Linked DNA regions of Homo sapiens. The protein of the gene in region 1 purifies or fractionates together with the protein of each later gene. This does not show direct contact. Each region holds a gene or a part of one and is shown in the gene's direction. Other genes may lie near its edges. The genes, in order: PNOC, DCAF6, PDP1, LNPEP, CDC26, CETN3 and NISCH.

Region 1 (3,500 bases):
TTTTTAGTAGAGATGGGGTTTCACCATGTTAGCCAGGATGGTCTCGATCTCCTGACCTCGTGATCCACCCGCCTCGGCCTCCCAAAGTGCTGGGATTACAGGCGTGCGCCACCGCACCCGGCCTACACTTCCATTTTTATGTCGTCAGCTACTTATGGCTCCAAGGAAGCTTGGGAAACATATACGTTGCCTTTAGGAATAAAACAGTGTTCTGTGCATAAGGAGAAGGGGAGATGAATACGGGCCAGTTGCAGCCTCTGCCCCAGAAGGTGACCTGGAAGCCAGGCAGGAGCTCCACGCTATGATGAGGAGCTCTGCCTACTGACTCACAGCAGTAAGGTCAGGTTGAAGTGGGGTTTCCAGCCGGCTAAGGCCAGAAACCTGGACTGAAATTAGGGGTGAAGCCAAAACAGCAAATAGGAAGAAAAGCTGGGGGCAGAGGCTTCCAGGAGACCCAATCAGAACCAAGAACGTGGGAGGTGGGGGGCCAAGGTCAGAACCAGCCAAGAGGGGCTGGAGAAACATCGTGGTCCAGCTGGTGGCTAGAAGTCAGGGTTGGCAGGAGAGGCAGAGCAGAGTGTTCCTAGGAGCCGAGCGGGTCTGCTGGGCTCTGGTCTGATGATGGCATCTCTCCCCACACCTGGAACTGGATCACAGGTTCAGCCCCGCACGTCCAGCCGGCCTACCACCCCACAGGGTCTTGACCCCATTTGCTATAAATGATACACAGATAGTGACGACTGCTGTACGCGGGATGAAAAATTAACAACACCTAGGTAGATCTTTACATGGTGACCTTAAAATAAACCTGCAGATTTGACTACATACTTTCACATCCCCAATTTCTTTAACCCATGTGACCTCCCACAAGCCTGAAGAGAGAACAAAATAAAATTCTTTATGGGTGACAGTCATGAGCTGTGCTTGGCTCCAAAAACCCGACTAAAGATGTAACAAGGTGCGGTGTTGGGCGCATTTATCCTGTGTTAACTTCCTATGTTAACGTGCTGTGACACCAGAGGTAAGTTACGCTCACCTCTCTGAGCCCTGGTTTCTTTGTAAAATGATGGAGCTGGGTCAGATGATTCTCTGTTTGTTTCCAATTCTGAAATTCTACGAACCTAAAACCTGTGTAAAACTGCTCCACGTTACTTGATAACTTAGATGCTTCAGAAGCACTTGCACTGGTGCAGTGGGCCAGATCTCCTCCCTCGCCCTGGATTAACAGAGGTCCTTGTTCCTTCTCCCCTCCTCTCACCCGTATCTTTGCAGGTGTGCATCCTCGAGTGTGAAGAGAAGGTCTTCCCCAGCCCCCTCTGGACTCCATGCACCAAGGTCATGGCCAGGAGCTCTTGGCAGCTCAGCCCTGCCGCCCCAGAGCATGTGGCGGCTGCTCTCTACCAGCCGAGAGCTTCGGAGATGCAGCATCTGCGGCGAATGCCCCGAGTCCGGAGCTTGTTCCAGGAGCAGGAAGAGCCCGAGCCTGGCATGGAGGAGGCTGGTGAGATGGAGCAGAAGCAGCTGCAGAAGAGATTTGGGGGCTTCACCGGGGCCCGGAAGTCGGCCAGGAAGTTGGCCAATCAGAAGCGGTTCAGTGAGTTTATGAGGCAATACTTGGTCCTGAGCATGCAGTCCAGCCAGCGCCGGCGCACCCTGCACCAGAATGGTAATGTGTAGCCGGAAGGGGCGCTCCTCCCAGCTGTACCGGCCACTGCAACCCATGAGTGAGTTGGGCACCAATAAGCTGGGGGCAAGGAGAGACCTCACACACCAACTGTCTTAGCCTTGCTCCCAGGCCTAGAAGCACATTCATCTCCCCGCCCCCTCCCCACTCCACACACACACACCCCGCAAGGAGTCCAGCCCACCCTTTCTCTAGGCAGCAGATTTTCCTATGATTGCACCTTGAAGCTGACCACTTCCGGCTAGAGACTGGTTACCATGGGGATAATAGTAGTATGTTAAGATAACTAATTCCTCTATCACTCCCCAGGAGCTTAGTTACTATGGGGACAGTTAAGTGGACCAATACGCCCATCCAGTTGCCACAGCAACCAGTCAGCTCACCTTTCCTCGAGATTGTCTCTCTAAACACCAAGAGTGGGACCTACTCTTAGCCATTAGCAGAGTCCAATTACCACAGCTATGATGGTGCTATTTCATCTTCAAAGACGGCTTACCTATCCCCTCTCCTTTCCCCAGCTCTCAGGGTGCCTGGCTCCATGGAAACATTAAAGTTTCCCATTTTACCTGGACAAAGAGTTCCTGTTAAGATTAGGAGTTGTGGTTTCTGCTCTTCCTCCTTCCACAAGCCATTTGTCCATCCTGCCACCTTGCCAGAGAGGGACTGATTCCTTGTGGTCAACGGTATCATTACTGAGCAAGACGTGGAGAATTTGGTCCAATGGACCTAGTAGCTACTAGAATATGGACTAAAGGGGTTCATCTTCTTTCCTCCATTTGGCTTCTTTCCAGCGTGCCATTTTTGTTTTGGTTTTGTTTGCTTGCTTTTATTCCTCTCTTTCTTCCTTGTTCTCTCTTTCTTCTGCTCTGTTCCTATACCCACAGGCACCTTATACAAGTCCACATGTCTCATAATATACATCAAATACCCTAACTGATTGCCTGTTCATTCAAAACCCAACTTTCCTTAGGATATCAACCAATACATCACTTTGAGTGGCATTGGCAACCTAGCACAGTAGAATTTTCTGAAAATTTAGGAAACTCCCAACCATCAAGGCTATGTGCCTTAATTTGTATATGGGAATATGATCATCTGCAGAGTCCCATACGTCTCCTTAAATAGCTAAGAAACTTGCCATATTCATCCATTTTGCATTGCTACGAAGGAATACCTGAGGCTGGGTACTTCATAAACAAAGTTTATTTGGCTCACGTTCTGCAGTCTATACAAGAAGCATGGCACCCGCATCTGCTTCTGGTGAGGCCCTCGGGGAGCTTTTACTCATGGCAGAAGGCAAGGGGAGCTGGCGTGCCACATGGCAAGAGGGGGCAAGAGGGGGAAAAGGGGAGGTCCCAGCCTCTTTAACAACCAGATCTCCCACGAACTCATTACCATAGGGTGGGCACAAAGGCATTCCTGAAGGATCCACCCCCATGACCCAAACACCACCCACTAGGCCCACCTCCAACATTAGGGATCACATCTCAACATGAAATTGGAAGAGGACAAACTTCTAAACTGTATCATTGTCCTAACACAAAGAACCAGTCAGATCATCAAAATCACCCCAAAACATTACCCAAGTGGGGCTTTTCCCTGAGTCCGAGCATAAGAGAAAAATGTCTGCATGTGCTATTTTAAGTTGCGTCCCATGTGTCAGAGGTAGCCGTGTCACTAATAACCTTCCTTGATGATCTATTAGTACATATGCTAATGTTTGGTGCCCACACTTTAGCATGGAGACGGCCCCTTTGCAGGTAGGCCAACATGTTCACCACGGGCCTGTTACCAAATATGGACACGTGTATTAAGT
Region 2 (3,654 bases), on another chromosome or scaffold:
TAGCTAACAATGAATTTGTATTATTTCTTTTAAAGAAAGTAAATAAATTCTTTGTAAAGGGTAGCCTGGAAAATAAAACAACAGTGTTTTTTGTGAAACACAGGCTTCCATTGGGAAATTTTTTTCTTATCTACCTTCCCTCCCTCTGCAGCAAACTCAGTGTCTCTTCATATCATTATCTTCCCCAGTTTCCTGAAGAAATATTCTAACAGAATAAAAGGAACCTTTCTACAAATGTAAACCTTATTTACAAAAGCAATTTGACATTGCTACTTCTGAAAAACAGTATACATAGACATCCTGGCTAACATGGTGAAACCCCATCTCTACTAAAAACAAAAAAATCAGCCGGGTGTGGTGGCACGCTCCTGTAGTCCCAGCTACTCGGGAGGGCGAGACAGGAGAATCGCTTGAACCCGGGAGGCGGAGGTTGCAGTGAGCCAAGATCGCGCCACTGCACTCCAGCCTGGGCGATAGAGCGAGACTCGGTCTCAAAAAAAAAAGAAGAAAAAGAAAAACAGTATACATAGAAGTGATTCTTATTTCCAGTTTTTATTTAAGAGAACACACTGTTCTTCAGACCTCCTTGTCTATAATTGCCAACCAGAGATTTGTATAAGTGTTAACTGCTTTGCAGCCTTACTACTTCAGTAGCATTTCATGAACAGAAGATTTAATTAATTCTGAGAAGTTGGGCTTACATTCTGGAAGAGGTGACTATGCATCAGTTAAATGAATTGAATTTGAGGAGAGAACAACTATTCTGCTTTCCTCATTTCAGAAGCCACTGTCACTTATTCTGTGACCTATCGTAAGACTCTTGGCCCTCATTTGTCTCTTTATTGTGTGCCTCTGAGTGTAAAAGTCTAACCTCTACTGCAAACTCCCTGATTTAAAGGCTGTGACATTTTTTTCTTAACTCTCTATTATCCCATCTTCTTTATAATGTGACAACCAAAAGAAATTTGAGTAAGAAGCCTGCCAACTTTGAGATAGGCCGTTACTGCTTCATCATGCTCTAACATGACAGGATAGGTTTCTTGAATATATTCAGTCATACTCAGGATTCCCATTCCTGAGCCCTACTTAAGTAGAATAGCAACTTCATGTTTTGTTCTCTCTTGAAAGTATCACACAATAAAAACAATGTAATTTTTTTTATACTAATATCCCTTAGGTAGCCTTTTATTGGTCAGAAATTCTTCTACTGTGTTTAAATTCCTTACTGATCTATAAAGGTCTATTCAAATCTTATTTTGTTCATTTATTTTATAAATATGTATTGAATACATATTTATAAAATAAATGAACAAAATAAGATTTGAATAGACCTTTATAGATCAGTAAGGAATTGAATACTTATTTGTATTCAATACCTATTTGTATAATTAAGGTTATAAAGGTTACACATACATTATGTCATTGGTTTGACATTGGATTAGAGTTGGCATAGAGGAGATTTAATCTAATTCACTTGGACAATTAAACAATTAAAAGGGACATATAGTCCCTTCAGTGTACTGTTCTTGGTGCTGTTGACCTAGGATCCAGTGGGAGCATTTAATCCTGTGTAGATAATAAATAAAATCTCAGGATTCAGTCTTCTCTTGCTGTTGACAGTGGGACTGAACTGTTTTCCTTATGCTTAACCTTAATATTTTCCATGTTACTATGTGGAAATGTTTCTGGGGCAGAAACATCCTAGTTCCATCTCAGTGATGGTAGTGATTTTATGCTGTTGCCTTCTTCACAATACCCTTATGTAATGTATCTTACCTTCATAAAACTTATATTCATTTATTCAGTAAACCTTCATTGAACATCCTATACTAGGCTCTGAGGATATAAAGATAAAAAGAAGTAACTCCTGCCCTCCAGGAACTCTCAATCTGGTCTGCAGGAAGACATGCAAACGACTATTACTGTAATTAGGATCATCATTATGAAGTTCATATAAGATATTCTAGAATGTGGAGGAGGGAGTTCATAATTCTGCAGATAGCCTGTTTGGAAATGTCCAGGAAAAGTTTCACCAAGGGTATAATAGTTGTATTGAGATGAGTAAACCTTTATAGCTAAAGAATTGGGCAAAAGTATCCCAAGCAGAGGAATAGCAAGTGTAATTCCTGAAAACTTGAACGAGCATACTGTACTCACCAGTTTGTAAGTTTATATTCACTTGAGTATTTAACCTAAATAAGCTCCTTGAGACCAGAAATTTACATCTGTTTTGGTCACCATTGTATTCTCAGGTTTTATCACAATGCCTGGAACATAGTATTTAATTTAAAAAAATCTTTTTACAAACAGAATTACACAAATCCTCAACAATCGTCCACATATTTTCTCTCACACAGCTGCCTCCTCACTCCCCTTTGCAGCACCTGATGTACCTCCTTAGAAACCTAGACTCCAAAGAACACTGTTTGACAACCACTGCAGTAGAACATAATATATCAAGATTTTAGGAGTGGGTTTCTTTTTTCATTTTTACATGTTTTAGAATAACATGCATAATCAAAGCTAATAATACTGTGTTTTCTTTACTCTTTTATTTGCCTCTAAAGACATCCACACATAGTGGTGAACTGATTTTTAATGCGTTTTAAATAAAAGGCATTGAAAAATATTAATAATTGTAATTACTAAAAGTATTTCTCTTTGCGATTCTCTTATCTGTGTTTCCAGACCGGTTGGAGGGTGACAGATCAGAAGGCTCTGGTCAAGAGAATGAAAATGAGGATGAGGAATAATAAACTCTTTTTGGCAAGCACTTAAATGTTCTGAAATTTGTATAAGACATTTATTATATTTTTTTCTTTACAGAGCTTTAGTGCAATTTTAAGGTTATGGTTTTTGGAGTTTTTCCCTTTTTTTGGGATAACCTAACATTGGTTTGGAATGATTGTGTGCATGAATTTGGGAGATTGTATAAAACAAAACTAGCAGAATGTTTTTAAAACTTTTTGCCGTGTATGAGGAGTGCTAGAAAATGCAAAGTGCAATATTTTCCCTAACCTTCAAATGTGGGAGCTTGGATCAATGTTGAAGAATAATTTTCATCATAGTGAAAATGTTGGTTCAAATAAATTTCTACACTTGCCATTTGCATGTTTGTTGCTTTCTAATTAAAGAAACTGGTTGTTTTAAGATACCCTGAATTTGACTTTTTATTTAATGCCTTGCTACTTTGACCCACAGTTTTCCAATCTCTCCTGTAGCATACGATGACTATTTTTCTATATTTTCTAGATTTAACAACCTTTTCCTTTTTTGCTTGTGTGGGATAGAATCACATAGAAGGACTTCCTTCATTTCTCCTTCCACGGTACAGCTGACCCTTGAGCAACCCAGGGGTTAGTGGCACCAGCCCCCCTCACAGTTGAAGATTCATGTGTAACTGTTGACTTCCCAAAAATTTGACCATTAACAGCCTGTTGATCGCAAGCCTTACTGATAGCATGGTCAATTAACACATATTTTGTATATTTTATGTGTTATATTCTATACTCTTACAATAAAGTAAGCTACAGAAAAAGTGTTATTAAGAAAATCATAAGGAAGAGAAAATATATTTACTGTTCACTAGGTGGAAATGGATCATCATAAAGGTCTTCACTGTTGAGAAGGCCGAGGAAGAAGGAGGCGTTGGTC
Region 3 (3,323 bases), about 66 Mb from region 1:
CTGGATGACTTTCAGGTATTCAGTTTGAATTTCTTTTATTTAAATGGTTACTCCTGATGGATTCCCGTTTTTCTGGAATTTCTGTTTTTCATTAGTGCATTTCAGAATGCTTTTTTAGTTACGGATTCTTATTTCCAAAATTTTAGCCATTACTTTCTATTGCCTGATCTTGTCTTCATTTTCGTAAACAAATCCCTTCTTAGATAGTGCAGTTAAAATGATGGTACTTTCTACTACTTGCAGAAGAGAATCTGTGTGGCTGGCTTATGCAGTGCTTATTACAGAAACAAACAAGAATCAGTGATTATTCAGTGTTTAGTTTTCTTTGCTTCCCTCTACCCCAATTTATTACTTTTTCTCAAATTATTCTTCAAAAAAGGTACATGAAAATAATATATGGCTGACACATGCTATGATATTTGTTTAGCCGTGGGAAGGAATAGTTGCTATTAACTCAGATGGTTTTATTTTCTGTGTTCCTTTTTGTTTATTGCATTTGTTTATTTAAAGTATTTCCAAAGTGTTTCTTTATAGTACAAATGACTATTTTGAAGCAGTATCTCAAGAATTCAGGGAAAATATATGTTATTGAGGAAGAAGAGGGATTTTTTTTCTTGCCCAAATTATCTAGATTAATGATATATTCATTAAATTTCCCAAATAAATGCCCAGAAATTATTTTCAGCGCACATAGTGAGTGATAGGATTTTTTTTAAGTTTGTAATTATATTGCTGTACCTTTTCAATCCAAACCTTAGACTATTATTTGACTATACTGCTTCCCTGGAGCAAGTAAATACCTTTTTTTTTTTTTTTTAATGTGAGAGAAAACATTTTTGGTCTTTTAAAATTTATTTTTAATTTACAATTGACACATAATATTATATATTTATGGGGTACAATGTGATGTTTCAGTGCATGTATATATTGGTAGACATTGTGTAATGATCAAATCAGAGTGATTACCATATCCAAGAAAACATTTTTCTAGGGGTTAATTCTACTTTGGATCCATAGTAGATGAAAATACTTCTATGGGTTTTCCTTATAGCTGCTAAGCAGGGAACATTGTTAGTAGGTAAATTAAGTTCTAGGACTGAAACCATTTATGTTACTAACAAAGCTTTAGAGCTACTGCAATACTTAAACTTTTTTTTTTTTTTTAATCATGAAGGGCACGGTAGAATTCAACAGTGAATAAATGAAACCTGAATTTTATTTAAAAACCTCACTTCCATAAGCATAAAGGCATGAATCCTAGAAGAGCCTTAGATAGCATCTGCTCTGTTGATGTTCCTTTACAGGTTAGAAGAGTGAGACTCAAAGATGTGAGCTGACTTTTCCAAGATTATTTGGGAGTTGGTGGCAGACCTATGCCCGTTAGCCTGGCAAATTGCCACAGTGGACTAGAGAAGCAAGTTTTGCAAGACCATCTACTGGGGTACAGGAGAGAAATACTGGAATTTCTTTTTTTATTTAATTATGTAGAAATTTTTCTATATATGTTACAATGCATATTACTGTAGTCATATATGTATATGATGTACACGTAATTCATAAATACACATATGTTTGGCTGCCTCTTAACATTTTTGGTCATAGCCATGTGTAATCATGCCAAAAATTGACCACAGGTCTATGTAAAGGGTCTTCATAAATGGAAGAAGTCCCTGTGTAAAATGGGAGATTTCAAGGCATTTTTTAAGAATAGGGAGGGAGAAGGATGATTGGTCAGGTAGACGGCTACTGCATAATGTTATATAACCTTCATCTCCTCAGCTTTCCCCAGCCAAATCTGTTGTACATTCTGCACAGTTTGTACTGCACAAAGGACGACAAAGAAAAGAGAAAATTGAAGTTTGAGTATAGGAGCCAGGAGTTCAGTCGTGGTTCCACGAATGATTGGGAGTTGTGCCTGCCAGAATATACCCTGTAGAAATAGTACATGATGTGTGTATAAAATGTAGTACCTTCTAGCAAAGGCTTAACATGTAGATTGACTTGCTTAATATTTGTTATAAAGGCAAAGCTAGATTAAGTATCCTGAAATGTAACTCTTTCCTTTGTGTACATCTGTCTAATTTGCTGTCTAGGAATCCCAGTCAGAAGTTCCAGCCTGCCACTGTTCTCTGATGCCATGCCAGCACCAACTCAACTGTTTTTTCCTCTCATCCGTAACTGTGAACTGAGCAGGATCTATGGCACTGCATGTTACTGCCACCACAAACATCTCTGTTGTTCCTCATCGTACATTCCTCAGAGTCGACTGAGATACACACCTCATCCAGCATATGCTACCTTTTGCAGGCCAAAGGAGAACTGGTGGCAGTACACCCAAGGAAGGAGATATGCTTCCACACCACAGAAATTTTACCTCACACCTCCACAAGTCAATAGCATCCTTAAAGCTAATGAATACAGTTTCAAAGTGCCAGAATTTGACGGCAAAAATGTCAGTTCTATCCTTGGATTTGACAGCAATCAGCTGCCTGCAAATGCACCCATTGAGGACCGGAGAAGTGCAGCAACCTGCTTGCAGACCAGAGGGATGCTTTTGGGGGTTTTTGATGGCCATGCAGGTTGTGCTTGTTCCCAGGCAGTCAGTGAAAGACTCTTTTATTATATTGCTGTCTCTTTGTTACCCCATGAGACTTTGCTAGAGATTGAAAATGCAGTGGAGAGCGGCCGGGCACTGCTACCCATTCTCCAGTGGCACAAGCACCCCAATGATTACTTTAGTAAGGAGGCATCCAAATTGTACTTTAACAGCTTGAGGACTTACTGGCAAGAGCTTATAGACCTCAACACTGGTGAGTCGACTGATATTGATGTTAAGGAGGCTCTAATTAATGCCTTCAAGAGGCTTGATAATGACATCTCCTTGGAGGCGCAAGTTGGTGATCCTAATTCTTTTCTCAACTACCTGGTGCTTCGAGTGGCATTTTCTGGAGCCACTGCTTGTGTGGCCCATGTGGATGGTGTTGACCTTCATGTGGCCAATACTGGCGATAGCAGAGCCATGCTGGGTGTGCAGGAAGAGGACGGCTCATGGTCAGCAGTCACGCTGTCTAATGACCACAATGCTCAAAATGAAAGAGAACTAGAACGGCTGAAATTGGAACATCCAAAGAGTGAGGCCAAGAGTGTCGTGAAACAGGATCGGCTGCTTGGCTTGCTGATGCCATTTAGGGCATTTGGAGATGTAAAGTTCAAATGGAGCATTGACCTTCAAAAGAGAGTGATAGAATCTGGCCCAGACCAGTTGAATGACAATGAATATACCAAGTTTATTCCTCCTAATTATCACACACCTCCTTATCTCA
Region 4 (3,500 bases), on another chromosome or scaffold:
TTTGCATGCAGGGTTGGTATATTTTGTAAAAACTTAAATTCATCTTAAGAAATGCAAATGCTAAGGTTCACCCTCAGAATCTGATTAAGGAGGTCTGATTATATATGAAATACATACTAGAAAGTATGTATACTTTCTTTTTTTTTTTTTTTGAGACACAGTCTCACTCTGTTGCCCAGGCTGGAGTGCAGTGGCACAATCTCAGCTCACTGCAACCTCTGCCTCCCGGGTTCAAGTGATCCTCCTGCCTCAGCCTCCCGAGTAGCTGGGATTACAGGCGCCCGCCACCATGCCCAAATAATTTTTGTATTTCTAGTAGAAATGAGGTTTCACCATGTTGGCCAGGTGAACTCCTGACCTCAAGTGATCCGCTCACCTTAGCCTCCCAAAGTACTGGGATTACAGGCATGAGCCACCGCGCCCAGCTGAAAGTATATATACTTTCTAGTTTGTGATATATTCTAAAGTATATCTAAAGGTTGGTATTTTGGCATTTTGAGGTCCCAGAACTGAAAACATAAATAGTTTTTTTTTTCATATGAATGTAGGTCCTATGAATCACTTTTATTACCGCAGTGTGGTGCATAATCAAACAAGGAGGACTTAGTTGTCTTAAAAAATTATTTTTGCTTTCATGTTCAGATTGGTATCCAGTTGAAAGTATTTTTCAACTTCAAAAATGGGAAGTCTGGGCAACAAATGAGATATTTGTGGGTTGTAATACAGTATAAAATTGTGATTCCATCTTTTAATCTTACAAATAACAATTGTTCTATAGATATGTGAGTCTTTTTAAAAAAAAATTTTTAGCATCACTTCTCAAAAATGTGAGCATACCACATTTTGTTTTTATTTTTCTTTTGCTCTATGATAAATTTCCACATTGAAAGACAACTCTTAAGAAATAGGAGCTCATAGTTTCTCTGTGTGATGGAATATAAGTTAAATCCTGTTTTTATCTTTCTGTCTTAAGTTTTTAATTTTATTTGGGGGAAATAAGACTGTTAGGAATTAAGTGTTAGCATCACTAACAATCTAGGGTTAAAGCTATAGCTAGAAACAGCCCAGTTTTTAACTGGAAACTAGTGGTAGAAAAGTTCTTTGCTATTACTTGCCAGTTTCCAAAAACTGTCTTGATACATGCATAAAAACAGCATATTTTAGAAACTCTTATAACCGGTGATTATCATTTATCTGTAGGTTATCCTTGAGAACTCAGCCTGAAAGATAGATAACCAGAGAGATTGGTTATAAGGAAATTATATAGAAAATAAGTGGTAATTTTCTGCTCAGTAATTCAATCATACAGCTATCTTTTGAATGCCCATTTACAAGTAGATTTTCTGCTAGACACAGTTACATTAAAAAAAAAAAACCCACAACCTCGTCATCAGATAATGCTTACCTAAATAAGAGAAATGAATAGAAGAACCTAGTTTTGTTGTCATGCTAATATGAAATATGGAAACACAGAAGAAATAAAAAAGCAATAAAGTTTTGTCTAAGACAGTATTCTAATTATGAAATAAATGTACAGAAACTGTTCATAACTGTTTGCATGTCTACTAATTTAGTGTAATACTCCTATTAGGAAACAGCAGTATTAACCCTGTCTATGAAAACATTAGGAAATTGAGATTTGAAAGAGTTTAGCCAAGATTACCCCAGATGTTGGGATGGACCTAGATGAGGCCTGTGGTTCTTGGCAGTCGAGGTGAGGTCAGTGCAGCTATGTTTTGTCAATTAGTCACCTCATGACTTGAAAACTGTAGGGCAGCAGTCCCCAAACTTTTCGGGACCAGGGACCACAGTCGGGGGGATGTATGTATACTTTCTAGTTTGTGATATATTCTAAAGGGGAGAAGGTTTGGGGATGACTCAAGTGCATTATATTTATTGTGCACTTTATTTCTATTATTATTGCATTGTAATATACAATGAAATAATTATACAACTCACCATAATGTAGAATCAGTGGGAGCCCTGAGCTTGTTTTCCTGCAAGTAGACAGTCCCATCTAGGAGTGGTGGGAGACAGTGACAGATCAGGCATTAAATTCTCAAAAGGAGCACACAACCTAGATCCCTCACATGCGCAGTTCACAATAGGGTTCGTGCTCCTATGAGAATCTAATGCCACCACTGATCTGACAGGAGGTGGAGCTCAGGTGGTAATGCTAACGATGGGGACTGACTGTAGAGATGAAGCTTCACTTGTTTGCCTGCTGCTCACTCCTGCTGTGTGGCCTGATTCCTAACAGGCCAGAGACTGGTACTGGTCTGTGGCCTTGGGGTTGGGCAAACCTACTGTAGGGGGCTGGAGTTGAGCTGATACTACTAGGCCTTTCCATAGTATAATTGGAGCAACCAGAAAGACACAGTCTTTTATTTATTTATTTATTATTATTTTTTTAATTTGAATCCGTAGATAAATTTCAGCAACTTTTCTGAAAGTTTGCAAGAAGCCAGGATTGAGAATGAAGGGACATTTTGGAGCCCTTGTGGTGGTACAGTTCTTTTTATATCTAGATCTTGACCTAGATCTACATATGGCCGTTATAGAGAGTGTTGCTTATTGCCTTGGTGTTTCTGGACAGTAAATGGAACATCAAGAGTTCTCTGTGTCCATGGAAGGGTGGACAGGATTCCCTTGTAACCTTATCCATTGTTGTAATTCATTTGTGATTGTCCTAGCAGCACCTGAAGGACTTTGCATTTTACAAAGATGTTTAGAGAAAATTGGAAGAGGAGAATCAATGATGAAGATGAAAGAAATGTGGAGATTGGGGGTAAAGGAAGAAGCTGATAGGCAGAGATTTTAAAAATGGTCATGCCTTGATCCTTGCAAGTCTTTGGTTCAGAAATGAGCTTCAGTTGGAGAGCAGGACACTGTTGTATGAGGTTGAAGACAGAGTCTAGGTTGGAAGGGGACAGGTAGGTAGGTCTGGTTGGATTAATGGAATTGGGGGCTCAGGGGACAAATGAGTTAAGATTGGCATTTGGGAGCCTTGCCAAGAGATAGAAAACATTTGCCAGAAATTTAAGCATACTGTCTTTTTTATAGTCAGAAAATTCAGTCACTCGTAAGTTGGGACTGTTCACTTGTCTGAATGTTTTAGATTTAAAGAAAAAATATAGCTCTTTGATAAACAACGTGGTGTGGAGCTGTGGTAAGCCTGCTCTTGCTCCTGACTCACCGCCGCTCGCTCTCACCAAAAAACAGGTTGGTCAGGAGATACAGAAAAACGCCCATGAAGCCAGAGGTGGCAATTCACTGAATTAGAATCACTCTAGGCCCAGCGCGGTGGCTCACACCTATACTCCCAGCACTTTGGGAGGCTGAGGCAGGCGGATCACCTGAGGTCAGGAGTTTGAGGCCAGCCTGGCCAACATGGTGAAACCCTGTCTCTACTAAAAATACAAAAATTAGCTGAGTATGTTGGCACGTGCCTGAAATCCCAGCTACTCGGGAGGCTGAGGCACAAGAATCACTTGGACCCA
Region 5 (3,040 bases), on another chromosome or scaffold:
CCTCCTCTCTTTCATTTTTAACAGCTAATAGTTCACTGGGTTTGGCCCTTAGTGTTGACTTCAGTATGCTGAGACGGAAACCAACACGCCTAGAGCTAAAGCTTGATGACATTGAAGAGTTTGAGAACATTCGAAAGGACCTGGAGGTATGAATACAACTTTGTGTTTTTTTGAGATGGAGTCTCGCTCTGTCACACAGGCTGGAGTACAGTGGCATGATCTTGGCCCACTGCAACCTCTGCCTCCTCTGCCTCAGCCTCCCGCGTGCTGGGACCACAGGTTCATGCCAGCACGCCCAGCTCATTTTTTTATTTTTAGTAGAGTTGGGGTTTTGCCATGTTGGGGCCAGGCTAGTCTCAACTCCTGACCTCAAGTGATCCATCCACCTCAGCCTCCCAAAGTGCTGGGATTACACGCGTGAGCCACTGCACCCAGCCATGAATACAACTTTCAAAGCTTAAGGAATATTTAAGATAATAATTCTTGTGTGGGCACAGTGGCTTACATCTGTAATGCCAGCATTTTCTGGCCAGGAGTTTGAGACCAGCCTGGGCAACATAGTGAGACCTTGTCTCTATGTTGGGCAGGGTGGCGCATGCCTGAGCTACTCAGGAGGCGGAGGCGGGAGGATTGCTTGAGCCCAGGAGTTTGAGGTTACAGTGTGCTATGATGGCTCCACTGTACTCCACACTGGGCAACAGTGAGACTCTCTGTCATACATAAATATGTATATACACACACATACATACACAATAACTTTAACTTCTGAACTGCAGACTCTTAAGCCAACAGCTTATTTGAAATCTCTGTTTGGATGCTTTACAGGCATCTCAAACTTCATGTATGTCTCCTGTGGCTGCTGTAACAAAGTACCACAAACTTCATCGCTTAAGACAACAGAAATTTATTATTTCACAGTTTTATAGGCCAAAAATTAGTATTGCTGGGCTGAAATTTAGGTGTCAGGAGGGCCACATTCCCTATGGAGGATCTAGGGAAGAATCCATTCCTTGGCTCTTCTAGCTTCTGGTGGCTGCTGGCATTCCTTGACTCATGACTGTATCACTCCAGTCTCTGCCTCCAGAGTCATATTGTCTTCTTTTCTGTCTGTGAAAACTTCCTCTGCCTCCTTCTTATGATATGTGTGATTGTGTTTAGGGCCCACCTGACTAACCCAGGATAATCCCCCCTTCTCAAGATCCTTAATTTAGTCACACCTGCAAAGGCCCTTTTCCCATATAAGGCATTTATAGGTTCCAGGATTAGGACCTGCTAGCTTTGGGGGCCATTTTTCAGCCTACTACACTTAACATGTTAAAAAAAGAAGAGAGAAAAACTCTTGATTTCTCCCTTGAACCAGTCGTCCCTTCCATTCTTCCCCAGTGTTTCCCATCTCAGTATTGATTCAGTTCCTCAGGCCAGAAACCTAGCAGTCATTCCTGAGTCCTCCCTTTCTCTTACGCTTTATATTCGATCTGTCTGTAGACCCTTTGATTCTACCTTCAGAATATGTCTGGAATCCACCCATACCTTTTCATCTCCACTGTTACAGTCCTGCGCTAAGTAACCGTCTTTCCCTGTATAATTGTAGTGGCATCCTAACTGGTCTTCTACTTCCATTTTTGTCTCTTTCAGTGCATTCTGCATCCAGTATCAAGAATGATCTTCAGAAATTTTCAAATCCTGTCATTCCCGTTTAAAACTCCTCAGTAGTTTTCTGCACTTATAACAAAATCTGAATTCTTCACCATGGCCTACAAGATTTTGTATGTTCTAGTGCCTCTCCAGATTCATTTTGTGCCATTCTTTGCCTTGCTCTCTATACCCTAGCCACATTGGCTCTCTTTCATTTCCTTGAACATGCCAATCTATTTATCACTTCCATGGACTTTCCACATATTATTTCCCCCTGCCTGGAGTGCTCCCTTTCTTCCAGTCTTCATTCAAATGTCAACTCTTCAATTTAAGAGGCCACTTTTGACCGTATCCAAGTTTCATGTGTCATTCCCGTCCATGCTGCCTCCATCTCTGTAGGCTCTCACAAAGCACCATATTTTTTTCATAGCATTTATTATAATTTACAATTTTTTTTATTGTAAAATCATTTACATTAGGGACGTTGATTGCAGAAATCATGTCTGTTTGCTTCACCATTGAGTTCTTACCATCTAGTTCATAGTAGGGGCCCCATATGTATTTTTAACTGTGGCCTTGCTACATGGTATTAGATGTCCATTAATAAGACTTAAATTCTTCAGTGGTCTACAGAATAAATTCCAAATTCCCTAGCATGGCATATGAGCTCCTTGTGAGCTGGTCCTTGCTTATCTCTCCACTTTCACTGCTGGGTTATCTTTAATCTCAGTGCCTATACACAGTGTTCCCTTTGCCAGAAAAGCCCTTTCTTTTTCTTTGCCAGGCTAACTCTTACTCCTTCCAGCCCCCAGCTGGGTTAGGCTCAACCTTATCCTCCTGTGCTAACCTCTCTCATAGGCACGGTCACTCTCTGTTGTAATTGTCTGTTTGCTTTTGTTTTCCCTCACTGGGCCATAAGCTCCTTGAAGTCAGGGATTAGTATATTTCTCTCTGCATCTGTTCCCTGCAATACCAGGTCCAAAGGAGGGCTCAATGCAAGTCTATTTTCATTTGCTGTCCTAGTAGGTATCTTGTACTATATGGCAGAGGACAGTACGTTTTGCATATATTCACCAACAGCTTTATTATGTATTGTATATGCTTCATATTAAGACTAATAACTTAGATTTCTTTCCCCCTGCTTCATCCCAAGAGACTTTAGTGTTCTCTAAGTATCGTAATTTTTGCTTTCTAAAAACTCATATATTATTAAGCATGAGCTTTAAAGTATGGCTTAAACTTCAGTTGTAACGAATCTCATAAAATGCTAGCATGCTGAACTTTGACTCTACAGTCAGCTCACTATTGAGTTAGTCTTTCCACTAAAGACAGTTATCTAGTGGGTTTTACCTTGTTTTAGAGTAACTTAGGAAGCAGGGACAGTCATGCCCTAAAGTGAAACCAG
Region 6 (3,500 bases), on another chromosome or scaffold:
TAAAAAAGGTTAACATTTAAAATATGGATTTGATTTTTCTAATTTCAGGTTTATCTCGGGGTTTGGGGATCTCATTTGACATTTTATTGTCAGACTAAAAGTTGACAGTCACAGCTTTAATTCTCATCTAATATTTAGTTGATTTCACAAATGAATGCCTTTGTGATTATGCAGGTTTATTAAAATATATATGTTTTTAAACTGTAGTGACAGACTGGATATTGGAAAGAGATCCCCATGAAGAAATACTCAAGGCATTTAAACTATTTGATGATGATGATTCAGGTAAAATAAGCTTGAGGAATTTGCGACGTGTTGCTAGAGAATTGGGTGAAAACATGAGTGATGAAGAACTTCGAGCTATGATAGAAGAATTTGACAAAGATGGTGATGGAGAAAGTAAGTTTTAAGTGAAACGTATTTTCCAGGTTTTCCTGATGCTACACATGTAATACATTTTTCTAAAACCAAATGACTTGCAAGACTTTTTTGTAAACTTAACTGCTTCTTGTAATGGACCTTCTGTCTAAATAATTCACATATTCAATTTAGAATGAAGCAGATCTCTAAAACCAATTATACTTCAAGAAGGTCCTTCACTTTTCTCTGAAGGTGAAACCACCAAAATTTCAGCCTTTCAATATAATTTCAGTCTTTAATGGCTTCTCCCTCAACCTACATGCTAAGTTCTAAGTTCTATTGATTTTCCCCTTCAAATGTTTTGAATCTGTTTTTATCTTTGTCCATTGTGGCTGTCCTAGTTCAGGCCCTAATTTCTAGTTAGGAATGTTATAATGGCCTCATTTATTCTTGCCTTGGCTGCCTACTGGGTGCAGTGTCCTGCGTGTTGACTGGTGCTACACAATGAAAAAGGCAGATGTGGTTCTTGCTTTCACTTTGCAGTCTCTTGTAGTGTCCTAATTGCCCTTTCGGCATATAAAAGTCTCTAATCTCTTCTTCAGTCTCTTGGTATCATTCTTTTCCTAAAATATACATTTGATAATGCCATTTCTGTGTTTAGACACTTGAAACGATTCTTCAGTGCCTACAGAGTAAAGTTCAAAGCCTTCTATGATCTATCCCACCTTGAGTAACTGATTTTACTTTCCAGTGTATTCTTTCACTTTTCTTCTTTAACCCTCACCTCCTGTATGTACACATTTTGTCAACATATGCTATCCTGAAAACACATTTTTATGCTATTCGTTTCATCCTGCTGTTTCTTAATCTTAGAATGCTCTAATTGTTAATTTCTGCCTGCTAAAATGTGATTCATTCTCTCAGGTAAATATTAAACACCATCTTTTTCCCAAAAGCTTCCCATAACGCTCTATGAATCATGAGACTTCCATTGAAGGCCTATAGCATTTAGAGAAACAAATTGTTTTGATACTTTCATACACTTAATATGGAATCTTTTGGCTGGAAACTAAGTTTTGTTGAGATAAAAACCACTTTATTTGTATGTTAAACTGCTAAAGATTAGACCTTGCTGTCTTTTTTGTGGACTTTAGTGTTCTTCTCTCTTTGTGACTTTTTCATGCTTTTCAGTATCTAAGAGCAATGAAATTTTAAAAATATTGGGTATATAGAATAATAAACATGGTGAATGTGAAGTTAAAGGTAAATAAGATGTACTACAAGATAGACATAAAGCTGTGGTAATGATACAGAAAGAGTCACTTCCCCCTGCCCCCTCAACAGCATATATAAAATAAAACACAGCACATCTTTTGGAAAAAATGAAAGGAACGTTTTGAAAAGCCAGAATGGATAATCTTTTAAATAATGATGATGTTTTTTAACATTTATTTAGCAGCTACTATATTGGATATTAGCATTAATTATGTCACTTAATTTCCATAATAACTTGTAAAGTAGATATAGTATTATACCTATACATGTGTATAATAGATGCATATATAGAGATGAGGAAGCTAAAGCTTTGAGAGATTATTAATCTGCCCAGGTTATCACAAAGCTAATACTGTACATGGTAGAGCCAGAACTCAAAATCAAATCTCCAAAATGGCAAAGAATGTGCTTTTAAACGTAATATTGTATTGCCTTTCGGGCTATGAAGTAAAATATTAACTAGACTTCTATGTTTATGGAGTTTTAAAAATTACATGCTATTATAGGAAGCAGTGTATTAGCAACATACTCAGTTGGAACTTCCAATTCTAAGATTTGCTTTTCCCCTTCAAAGCCAGATGGTCTCTAAGGTACTTAATCTACTTAGTTCTGTAAAATTCTTATTGTTAGCAACTTGTAATAAGATTTGCTCTATGAAATGGTTGATGTATGAAAAATTTTGTTAAAGAAGGCAGTATAAAAGGAAACAAAGTGTCATATTTTCTTGATTCAATAAATGTTTTACCAAAGCTTATTTTAAGCTAGGCATTGTGGTAGATTTATTAGATATAGGAACTTGATATAAGATATTGTTAATAGAGAAGGTTATAAAATCAAATGCACAGAGATATAGAAGATTGTCTTTTAATTGTCTACAAGACAATTAAAGTAAAGTAGCTAGTTTAATTTCCTGAGCCACTTTCTAATTTTTACTTTCTTGGGTTTAAGTAGTGTGTTTTTAGGTATGAATCATGGAATTCAGTTGTCCCTTGATAAGCACAGGGGATTGGTTCCAAGTCGCTTAAGGATGCCAGAATCTATGGTGCTCAAGTCCCTTGTATAAAATGGCATAGTATTTTCATATAACTTTCACATATCCTCTTGTATACGTTAAATCATCTCTAGATTACTTATAATACCTAATACAATGTAAATGCTATGTAAATTGTTATACTTTATTTTATTTGTATTATTTTTTATTGTGTTATTTTCCCAAATATTTTTCATCTGCAGTTGGTTGAATCTGCAGATGTGAGGAACCTGTGGTTACAGAAGGCTGACCGTATTTTAAATACTTTTGAAATGCTATTATAGTTTAAAGTTTTTGTATATAAACAATATAAAAATTAAGTGTTTTGTGGTTTTCAAACTTATATATGAAACTTAAAATTTGCAGTTTGAGTATTGAAATTTTACAGATCAAGAAAAAGTTCTAGATCTTTAAGTAACAAGTACTTTTTGGATTTTGAATATTTTAATCATGGATGTATTACACTGTTAAAATGATTTGTAATCAAATCATTCTAAGGCTGTTTTATGTTTTTTCTCTTAATACAGTTCTTAAGAACATACTCTTGCTTCCTATTTGGTCTAGATGCCTCAGTCTAAATCGGGAGTTCTTCAGTGAAGGTGCACACTGGCTAAACTGATTAATAATTTTATATATTTGAACTGTATTTATTGGAAAGAGAGAGGGATCATAGCTTTCCTAAGATATTCAGACATGGCTATTTAACTGCAAAGGTTAAAGATCACTACATCAATTTGTAAGATTCTTGAAAGTAGTTTGGAGTATTACAGATTTTGTATTACGTTCTTACCATGTTTGTCATAGTGTTTTGTAGATGTTAAATACTGATTGCATG
Region 7 (3,500 bases), on another chromosome or scaffold:
CTCCAGCCTGGGTGACAGAGCGAGACTCCATCTCAAAAAAGAGAAAAGGCTAGAAAAGGCATCACCAGGTCACCAGGGCAAAGGCCCTTTGGGCTTGAAAAGCATTGCTCCTAAAGCAGGGCCAGGACTTAATTCTAAGTGGCTGTTATGTGGTAAATTGTTCAGCTTTGAACGATTTCACAATCGTTTAAAGACATAGGAACCAAAGGCATGCTTTAATGCAAGTTTACTTCCACATGCTAAATATGCTCCAGCCCTTCCTTAAATTCTGCAACGACTGTGTTCCCAGTGAGTGTTGCGTGAGGGCCCGAGTGTGGTGCTCCACACAGATGTTTTTATGCAGGAAGTCCTTGTTCCTGAAGCCTCAGAATTTGATGAGTGGGAGCCTGAAGGCACAACCCTAGAAGGCCCTGTGACTGCCGTCATCCCCACTTGGCAGGCATTGACCACGCTTGACCTGAGCCACAACAGCGTCTCCGAGATCGACGAGTCTGTGGTATGCTCTCAGCAGCAGGTGCCAGGGGTTTCTCTGGCCCCACCAAACCCTGAGTTTGAGTATTTAACTCAGCTTTTTTAGGAAGGACCACGGAAAACCTATATCTAGTGCTCTGTGCATTGCCTGCCATTTTAAGTTAATTACAAAATGGGGGCTGGGCGTGGTGGGTCACACCTGTAATCCCAGCACTTTGGGAGGCCGAGGCGGGAGGATCACTTGAGGTCAGGAGTTCGAGACCAGCCTGACCAATGTGGTGAAACCCCATCTCTACTAAAAATACAAAAATTAGCTGGGTGTGGTGGTGCACACCTGTAATCCCAGCTACTTTGGGAGGCTTAGGCAGGAGAATCGCTTGAACCCGGGAGGCGGATGTTGCAGTGAGCTGAGATAGGGCCACTGCATTCCAGCCTGGGCGACAGAGTGAGACTCCGTCTCAAAAGAAGAAAAAAAAATGGGATCATTTAAAATTGGTGAGGTAGTACTTAGAACCAAATAAAACATAATAATTTCATGTAAATTTGGTAAACTATAACACACTAAATGATGACATTTGCTCCAAAGAGTGGAGCAGAAAAATCACTCCTTAGATGACAGATGTGCCCATGAAAGAATGACACCCAGAGGGCATTTGGGCAGTAAGAGTGTCGTTCCCGTGTTTGCGCTGCTCAGGGAGTGTGGGCAGGGTTGAAGAAGAACAGACTCTCTTCTCTGTCTGGGACCTTGCTGTGTGTCATTTTCACAAGCCAAGTGTTCCATGAAAACTGAGTAGTGCCCAGCACTGGGGGCCCTGTGTGTGCCTTTGGATGTGCTACTGGCTGGGCAGCGGGAGATGTCCCACCAGTGGTCCTGCAGGGACGGCCCGTGGGAGTCCATGGTCGGGAGGAAGCGTCCTGGGGTGCCCGTCCACTGTGTCGGGGACCGTGTTTGGGGTCCAGCCCCCTACAGTAACATCGGGTGTTCTTTTCTTTCACAAGAAACTGATCCCAAAGATTGAGTTCCTGGACCTGAGTCACAATGGATTGCTGGTTGTGGACAATCTGCAGGTAGTGCCTTTGGAGACCAGTGCTGCCCGCACACACTCCCAAGGCCCCGCCCTGAGATTTCAGGAGACTGACGCAGCCTTGGGAATTGGCCAGGGGTTGTAAGGGCAGGGGTTGCTGTCTTCGCTTTAGGATCCCAGCAATGCACTGAGTGATTGTTGCTCTAGTTCCAAAGAATTAGGAAGCATGAGTAAATACAAACCAGGCATGATGATGCACCTCCGTCCTGAAGGTGGACAGCCATGTTTTCAACGCCCACCCCAACTGTCTGCAGGGGTGCCACTGTGCTGTGGCATGTGCGGCAGAGAAGAGGGACTTCCCTTCCTAAAATAACTGTCAGAGTGACTTGCAGAACTGGGTAGTTTGGGTTGGAAGGCCCATCCTGCCATTAGTGTCAGGCCCCTATCTTTGGAGACTTGACCTGAGCCACTTTACGCTGTTCTCCACGCCGCTGCAGCACCTGTATAACCTTGTGCATCTGGACCTGTCCTACAACAAGCTCTCCTCCTTGGAAGGGCTTCACACCAAGCTGGGGAACATCAAGACCTTAAACCTGGCAGGCAACCTCCTAGAGAGTCTGAGTGGCCTGCACAAGCTCTACTCACTGGTCAACCTGGATCTCCGGGACAACAGGATCGAACAGGTGAGCCCAAGGACCTCACAGTTTTGGGATTTCTGTGCCTTGGTGTGTATCATGTTAAAGAAGAATGTTAAGATTCCTTTCATTTAAAAGAGACCATGAAACGTGTTGGCGTGTTGCTGAAGTGTTAAGAGAAGGGACCAAAGGGGATGGAACTCATACCTTGCAGATGGAGGAGGTCCGGAGCATAGGCAGCCTCCCGTGTCTGGAGCACGTGTCTCTGCTGAACAACCCTCTGAGCATCATCCCCGACTACCGGACCAAGGTGCTGGCTCAGTTCGGAGAGAGGGCCTCAGAGGTGAGCCCCAGCACAGTCAGAAGAGCCCAGGGAGACCTTCGGGATGCAGTCAAGTCTGCATGGGCGGTAGGGGGATATATGTCCATTGTTCTACCCTTGCCTGCTTCAGAAAGAGGTCCTGTCCCTTAGGGGCTTTTCAGTTCTGGGAAGTCCACTATCTCCCCAGGAAAAAGCTCCCTTGCATCTCCTGCCCCTACTGTCTGGGATAACATTGTTTATTCTAGGAAAGGGTCAGAAATAAGATCCTTAAAATATTCATATCTCCTGGACAACCTGTGGCCATAGTGCCTGACTGTAAACCCAAAGGGTTTGCCTTTGCCAGTGTAGCCCAGCCTGGTGTCTGCTGCCCCTCGCGGTGTCTGTGCACCTGCCACGATGCTGACCAGACACCCTTAACCAGGTTCACCCATCGCCTGGGCCTGGAGCAGTCCCCGTGATGCTCTGATTGGTCCTTGGACCTTCTGTTCTCCCAAAATCCCAGGTCAGAAAATACCTGGAAGTCTATTTGTGTCCCACCTCCCTCTTTGTGGCCGCAAGTGCCCCTTCCTCCACACAGTCACAAGACCATGAGATGCCATCTCCTCCCCTCCTGGGCTGCAGACTTTGGGAAGCTCCCAGGCCACAGAGTGTCAGCTCCTGTCCAGGCCCTTGGGACCTTCCCTCATTCAACCACCCTACCCAACCCCCCACTGCCTGCCAGCCACCACTCCCTCCCACATTTGCAGGCGGGGGCCCTGCCCTCTCCTGCCGCTGGTTCCCCTACCCAGGAGGCTCTCCCATCGCTCTTTTGAGAGTCTGCCTCCCACCTCTAACTGGGGGCTTAGTTCAAGTTGCCCCCTTACCCTAGTCCCAGCTGCCCAAGAGCTTGCTGCCTCCTGTTCTTGGTGAGGGACTCCAGAGACAGATGTGAGACCTCCCTGGACCCCTCCAAGGCATTCCCAGGTCACTTCCATGAGTAGTGAAGAGCCGCCTCTGAGCAGGCTGAGCCTCCCTCAGCCTATGGTGTCCTCACGTGGCCTGGCCCAC

The links.
Region 2: the proteins of PNOC (region 1) and DCAF6 purify together in Homo sapiens (affinity purification with mass spectrometry; one large-scale study listed by BioGRID and IntAct). This does not show direct contact.
Region 3: the proteins of PNOC (region 1) and PDP1 purify together in Homo sapiens (affinity purification with mass spectrometry; one large-scale study listed by BioGRID and IntAct). This does not show direct contact.
Region 4: the proteins of PNOC (region 1) and LNPEP purify together in Homo sapiens (affinity purification with mass spectrometry; one large-scale study listed by BioGRID and IntAct). This does not show direct contact.
Region 5: the proteins of PNOC (region 1) and CDC26 purify together in Homo sapiens (affinity purification with mass spectrometry; one large-scale study listed by BioGRID and IntAct). This does not show direct contact.
Region 6: the proteins of PNOC (region 1) and CETN3 purify together in Homo sapiens (co-immunoprecipitation; 2 studies listed by BioGRID and IntAct, with this or other methods). This does not show direct contact.
Region 7: the proteins of PNOC (region 1) and NISCH purify together in Homo sapiens (co-immunoprecipitation; 2 studies listed by BioGRID and IntAct, with this or other methods). This does not show direct contact.

The regions. Positions count from the first base shown.
Region 1 is NC_000008.11:28,337,768-28,341,267, forward strand, and holds part of PNOC (prepronociceptin isoform 1 preproprotein), read left to right. Parts: intron 1-879; exon of another isoform or gene 880-1,021; intron 1,022-1,272; coding exon 1,273-1,677; 3' UTR 1,678-1,724; intron 1,725-3,500.
Region 2 is NC_000001.11:168,072,683-168,076,336, forward strand, and holds the end of DCAF6 (DDB1- and CUL4-associated factor 6), read left to right. Parts: intron 1-2,688; coding exon 2,689-2,753; 3' UTR 2,754-3,154; downstream 3,155-3,654. UniProt on the Homo sapiens protein: Ligand-dependent coactivator of nuclear receptors. Enhance transcriptional activity of the nuclear receptors NR3C1 and AR. May function as a substrate receptor for CUL4-DDB1 E3 ubiquitin-protein ligase complex.
Region 3 is NC_000008.11:93,919,923-93,923,245, forward strand, and holds part of PDP1 (pyruvate dehyrogenase phosphatase catalytic subunit 1), read left to right. Parts: intron 1-1,304; exon of another isoform or gene 1,305-1,441; intron 1,442-2,093; coding exon of another isoform or gene 2,094-2,137; coding exon 2,138-3,323. UniProt on the Homo sapiens protein: Mitochondrial enzyme that catalyzes the dephosphorylation and concomitant reactivation of the alpha subunit of the E1 component of the pyruvate dehydrogenase complex (PDC), thereby stimulating the conversion of pyruvate into acetyl-CoA.
Region 4 is NC_000005.10:96,939,080-96,942,579, forward strand, and holds part of LNPEP (leucyl-cystinyl aminopeptidase), read left to right. Parts: intron 1-3,500. UniProt on the Homo sapiens protein: Release of an N-terminal amino acid, cleaves before cysteine, leucine as well as other amino acids. Degrades peptide hormones such as oxytocin, vasopressin and angiotensin III, and plays a role in maintaining homeostasis during pregnancy.
Region 5 is NC_000009.12:113,269,533-113,272,572, reverse strand, and holds part of CDC26 (anaphase-promoting complex subunit CDC26), read left to right. Parts: intron 1-24; 5' UTR 25-65; coding exon 66-146; intron 147-3,040. UniProt on the Homo sapiens protein: Component of the anaphase promoting complex/cyclosome (APC/C), a cell cycle-regulated E3 ubiquitin ligase that controls progression through mitosis and the G1 phase of the cell cycle.
Region 6 is NC_000005.10:90,396,257-90,399,756, reverse strand, and holds part of CETN3 (centrin-3), read left to right. Parts: intron 1-207; coding exon 208-399; intron 400-3,192; coding exon of another isoform or gene 3,193-3,264; intron 3,265-3,500. UniProt on the Homo sapiens protein: Plays a fundamental role in microtubule-organizing center structure and function. As a component of the TREX-2 complex, involved in the export of mRNAs to the cytoplasm through the nuclear pores.
Region 7 is NC_000003.12:52,476,104-52,479,603, forward strand, and holds part of NISCH (nischarin), read left to right. Parts: intron 1-343; coding exon 344-496; intron 497-1,470; coding exon 1,471-1,539; intron 1,540-1,993; coding exon 1,994-2,179; intron 2,180-2,345; coding exon 2,346-2,474; intron 2,475-3,500. UniProt on the Homo sapiens protein: Acts either as the functional imidazoline-1 receptor (I1R) candidate or as a membrane-associated mediator of the I1R signaling.